2 separate regions of the Homo sapiens genome follow, and region 1 is linked to region 2. The links come from fine-mapping of genetic effects on gene expression. A gene starts in region 2. The other region holds a variant in brackets. All regions are shown on one strand. Distances are between the middles of the regions.

Region 1 (2,906 bases), 19 kb after region 2:
CTAAAGAGCTGGCGCTGAGAAGGTCCTCAATCATTGTCGGTTGCAGGGGATCTGGCCACCTGGGATCCAGCTCTGTGGTGCAAATGGGAGGAAGGGAGGCAGAGCCAGGTTTCCCATCCCCAAACCGCCCAACCCCACCTCCCACCTCCCACCCTCAGTTGGAGCCTAAGGTGACAAGGGGCTGCTGCTCCTACCTTGCTATGTTACAATTTTCTAACTAACCAGAGCCTGTCCCCTCAGATGAATGTGTGGGAGGGAGAATAGCCCGAGTGAGGAGGCCCTCCCAGCATTCCTGACCAGCTGGGGATCCTGGCGGGACGGATCCTCCACAGGAGCGTTTTTCTAGGGTGTGTTCTATGGAACGCTGGACCTGTGATGTGCTCCGGGAATAAAAGGTTCAGAGGTTGCTTTTGGGAAATGCCGCTTCCTACAAACCTGTCTGTCCCTGTTGTAGCTTCACGGTACACCCTGCAGCACGAAATGTGAATTGTAAAACAGTAAAAACAAAACATTAACAGCGGGGGACATTCCTCTGCTGACCCCAAAGTTCAGCAGGTGCGGGACAGGGGAGGGGCGGGCTCTCTTGTCTGCATCAGGCTTGGGGAGCCATCTCCGCCTCGGGGCTCGCAGACAGGGCTTCTCTGCCAAAGCAGCACCTCGGGGCGTGTTCTCCCACCCATCTGTGTTCAGGCATCCCTTCCCTCGCATCTGGATTTTGTTTAGGCCTATTTGCAATTCCTTAAAAAAAATCTAAGAAATAGTTGGAGCCTGAAAGAGAGCTGGCCAATGAAACGCCCCGTTGGGGCATTACCGCATCGGTGAGTGGCTGCCCTGAGGCGATGGCTGCGTTTCCGGGGCACCGCCGTGCGCCGGTGCCCACGCGTACCAGGCTTCAGGGGAGCACTCGGGAAGCGCGGGGGGTCGCGTGCCCTTGGCCGGAGGCCTGGTCGCCCGCTGGCCTCGCCATTCTCGGCTCCGCTGCTGTTGCCTGCGCGCCTGTGGCGGAGCAAGCCTGCCTCCAGGGCAGCCTCACTGCCGGGATCCTGGGCAGACCTCCCACGTGATAACCGTGATCACGGTGTTGATGCTCACTCTGGGGCAAGGGTGCTCACGTGTTCTCGTAATTGGGCGGAGTAGCCCTTCCTTCAAAGTCAGCCCCGGTCCCCTTGCACTGTGCAGCCCCTCTCTGCCGGACCCTGCCCGCATTAAATCTCCCCTTAACCTCTAAAATGCTCATTGCCAGCGCCCTTCGTTTGGTATTTGTAGCAGATACTGTCTCCTGCTGTAGCGCCATGTCTGTTCCCCCTTTCTACCATGATATAAAACCTCCTGATTTTTAGCTGGGCGCATGGTTCTGGAATCATGACTATGTTCCCAATTCCCTTGCAACTAGATGTGACTAAGTTCTGGCCAATGGGATGGTCATGTTCTACTTCCAGGAAGTGTCCCTAAAATAAGGGAATATGTCTTTTTAGGTCCCTTCCTCTCTCCAGCTGTCTGGAATGGAGCTACCATGTCTGGTGCCCAAGCAGCCAGCTCTGACCCAGAGTTAACATATTATGGATTGTGGAGCCACAGGATGGAGTAGCCTGGGTCTGATGGTTCTGTTAGTCAAGGCTAGTCAAAGAAGCAGGACCAACAGGAAATACATATGTTTATGTATGTATATGTTATGTATATGCTATGTATACACATACACACACACACAGATACACAGAGAGAGAGAGAGTTAAGAAAGTGGATC[A/G]TGTGATTGTGGGGCTGGCAAGTTCAAAATCTGCAGACCCACAGAAGAGCTGATGTTGCAGCTCAAGTCTGAAGGCAATTTGGAGGCAGAATTCCCACTTCTTCAGGGGACCTCAGTCTTTTCTCTTAAAGCCTTTTACTGATTGAATGAGGCCCACCCACATTATGAAGGGTCATTTGCTTTACTCAAAGTTTACTGATTTAAATGTTAATCACATAAAAAAAACCTTCACATCAATGCTGGTGGGTGATTGAAGGTGGTAAGCAAGGAGTGCCAAGGTCAAATTTGGATTTCAGAAAAATCTCTCTGAAACCAGTGATGGGTAGAGGAGAGTGAGATTGCAATCAGAGAGTCCGGTTAAGGGTTGATGTATAAAGATAGGTAGAAGATAGATACAAAGGGACAGTGGATGGTGGGAAGAGGAGAACTGAACAGCACATTGGCAGGAGGAATAAGGAAGAGGGAAAACCGAGGGAAAATCCCAAGTGTCTCATTTGAGAGGCTTAGGGGGATGATGATGTCACCAACTAAAGTCGAGAATGCAGCTGATTTCCCCTTTTGTGGTGGTGAGCCTGGTGCAGCATGAAACAATTCATTTGCTTTTAGGCATGTTGAGTTTTATCTGCCTTTGAGACATCCACACAGGGATTCCAGCAGGCAGTCTGATATGCTAGCATGGAGCTCAAGTCTGGTTGGAATCCAGATTTCTATGTCTGTTTCCATCCAGCAATTAAATTTCCAAGAGCAGTGAACCTTCCCATCACACTTGCATGTCTCGGTCCTAGATCTTCCAAACACGCATGACTATTTGCTTTTGTTTTCCTTTTTGGCCATGTTATCCCAATAAGATCAATTTCAGAAAGGATGTAGGCACCATTGAGGACCCCTTGCTGCACGATAAAGACCCAACTGTAATTCATAACAGACATGAATCGTATTCTACTGTTCTGGGGGTCTAATTTTTTTTTTTAATTCAGAATCTTTGAATCTCTCCCCCAAAGACCTAAGACTAGCTTGAATGTTAGAAGGATCTGTCTCTGGGCTGTATGGAGAAGTGTGGCTGCTATATGAGAGCAGATTCTCATGGAAAAAACATTTTTCCCCCATGGAATTTTCTTCCATGAGTCTAAACCCATCCTGGCTCAGGGCCCTCCCAGTCTCC
Region 2 (2,906 bases):
AAAACCACCCAGCAGATCACAGGATCTTGAAGTAAGCACAGTGTTTGGCATACAGTAGGCGCTCATCAATGCTGGTTCCTTTCACTCTCTGCCACTTGCTGGCTATGTGTGACTTAACCTCCCAATGCCTCCGTTTCTTCATTTTGAAGTGAAAGATGATGCCTATCCTCAACTTCAGACGAGATCCGGCACGTTCAGGGTGGTATGGCCGTAGACCCCAACTTCAAAACAACAGGCACACCCATTCAATTCAGGTAGCACCCTCCAAATGTGCCATGGGCTTAAGAGGCAGGAAGAGAGCCTGGTATGAGCCCACGGCTTCGGCTCCTGTTGCTCACTCTCTGCAGATCCTTGTGCAGTTCTCTGGGGTCACTTGCTGGTCTTTTTGAGTTTCAGTTTTCTTATTTGTAAGCTGGGGATGGTCATATCTCATTAGATTTTTTGGAGGACTAAATGGGACAATAAATATAAAACGCTCAGTACAAAACTTAGTCTATGGTCAGTGTTCAACAAATACTAGTCACTGGTAATAGTAGAACCACCTGCATTATGACACTATTATTTCTAGGCTCTTATGAGGATTCTCATTTACCAGGCATACTAGCCCTGCAAAACGGACACTATTGCTTCCATTATACAGATGAGGAAACTGAGGCTCAGAGAAGCTAAGTAACTTCTTCAAGGTTGCCCAGGCTGGGCGCAGTGGCTCATGCCTGTAATCCCAGCACTTGGGAGGCCGAGGAGGGCAGATTACTTGAGGGGAGGAGTTTGAGGACAGCCTGGCCAACATGACAAAACCCCGTCAATAAAAAATATAAAAATCAGCCAGGCGTGGTGGCACATGCCCGTAGTCCCAGCTACTCAGGAGGCTGAGGCAGGAGAATCGCTTGAACCAGGGAGGCAGGACTTGAGCATGCCACTGCACTCCAGCCTGGGCAATAGAGCAAGACTCTGTCTCAAAAACAACAAAACAAAACCAAACCAAAAAAAGGTTGCCCGGTTGCCCAGTGACAGAGCCAAGTCTTGCTTTCCAAGCTTGGGCTCACTCTCCTACACTAACTACCTGGCCCCATGCTGCCCAGTCCTGGGCTAGCTGCAGGAGGCTGCCGCATTACCCACCTCAAGCCACACAAGCACTGGCAGTAACAAGAGGCCGTAGAGAACCTAGAGTTCTCCAGCGGATGTGGTTCTCTGGCTGCCGTGGGCTGCCAGGGATCCCTTAGATCGCGGACTCCACAGTTCTTTCTTGCCACCTCCAGAAGGAGGCTGCAGCCCCATGAGCCAGGCAGCAGGAAGGGAGGAAGTCTCGCTTCTTGCCAGACACATTGTTTAACTGCAACAGTCAGTCCTCCAAAAACTCTGCCGGAAGTCCACCCCAGAAACTCAAGGGAGGAAACTGACTGCCTTCTTGGGGTTTTCTTAACTGTGCTTTTTCTGCTCTGCAGGAAAGATGCAACCTGGGCCAGAGGCCCCTGGAGGTTGTGCCTGAACCCAGACAGATCACACAAACCTGAGCAGCCATTAGCCGCTGTGTGGGCTCCTTTGCACTGTGGGGCTGCTCCTGGGGTAAGTGTGTGTCTTTGTGTGTGTGTGGGGTTCGGGGGCTGGGATGGCTGACTTACAAAGGACACGCTGTGGCCCAGCCCTGGGCAGCATCCAGCCTGCTTAGGTGGCCTTCTGTGGGCTTGGCCAAAAACACTGAGGCCTTTCTCTGTTTCACCTTCTTGTGCCAACTTGGCTGTGTGTGAACAAAGAATCACAAGCACACACCTGAGTTCACACTTGTGTAAAATTGGACTGAAGAGCTTGGTGAATCAAAGTTCAAGAAGGGTGACTTGGCCGGGCATGGTGGCTCAGTCCTGTAATCCTAGCACTTTGGGAGGCTGAGGGGGAGCAGATCACTTGAACCCAGGAGTTCAAGACCAGCTTGGGCAACACAGAAAGACCCTGTCTCTACAAAAAAATTTAAAAATTAGCTAGGTGTAGTGAGGTGTGCCTATATTCCCAGCTACTCTGGAGGCTGAGGTGGGAGGACTGCTTGAGCCTGGGAGGTTGAGGCTGCAGTGAGCTGTGATCATTCCATTGCACTCCAGCTTGGGTGACAGAGTGGGACCCCATCTCTTAAATTTAAAAAAGAGAAAGGAGAAGGAGAAGGAGGAGAAGGAGAAGGAGGAGGAGAGGGAGAGGAGAAGAAGAAGGAAGAGGAGGAGGAGGCGGGGGGGAGGGGGAGGAGGAGAAGAAGGAGAAGGGAGGAGATGGAGAAGGAGGGCACCTCAGAAGCCCTCAATAAAAACAGGGAGGAAGAGAACAAACACATCAAAGCTGCTGAGTCTGGTGCCAAGAGCAGGGGACTTAAAAGCTGTGTGACTTTGTCATTTGAGTTAACCTCTCTGATCCTCAACTTCTTGTTTGTGAAGTAGGAATAAGATTTTTTTGTGAGTTTGTTCTGAGGCTCATTAGTAACGTACGTAAAGCTGTTGGCTCCTGGTCTCTCTTATCATTCAGGGTTAAGCTTCGAAGTGGGCACAGGTGCTGGCAGCTATGGAATGGTGGGGAGGTTGCAGGGTGGGTCCCCTGGTCACAGAGAGCTTCTCACTGCCAGGGCTCAGAAGCCCCCTCACTGAGAGGCCTCACTGCCAGGGTTCAGAGCTCCCTCACTGGAGAGGGACTTCTTGAGTGTTGCAAGCTACATGGACAGACCATCTATGAGATCAAGCGTCCAGGCCCCTGGGCCAAGCAAATCTTGGGCCAAGATTGTGTGGCTTTAGGGGACATTATGGAGCCTCTGAGGGCCTCAGCTCCTCCTCTGTGAACTGGGGACTGTGGTGGTGATAATGGTACCTACGCATACAGAGATTGACAAGTACTGCTGAAACACAGCTAGGGATGTCTGTCTCACATCAAAA

Evidence for each region. PIP is the estimated chance that this variant, and not a neighbour inherited with it, causes the effect.
Region 1: its variant is fine-mapped to the expression of LINC00539 in whole blood (TOPMed, PIP above 0.99).

The regions. Positions count from the first base shown.
Region 1 is chr13:21,324,385-21,327,290 of GRCh38, reverse strand. All of the region lies in intron 2 of LINC00539 (long intergenic non-protein coding RNA 539), which reads left to right. It also overlaps the pseudogene MIPEPP3. Among named protein-coding and RNA genes, the nearest start is that of LINC00539, 19 kb to the left of the region's middle. The variant A/G (reference allele first, on the strand shown) is at 1,745.
Region 2 is chr13:21,343,326-21,346,231 of GRCh38, reverse strand. LINC00539 (long intergenic non-protein coding RNA 539) reads left to right here and starts at 1,373. Exons shown (of 3, transcript NR_103841.1): 1 at 1,373-1,566. It also overlaps the pseudogene MIPEPP3.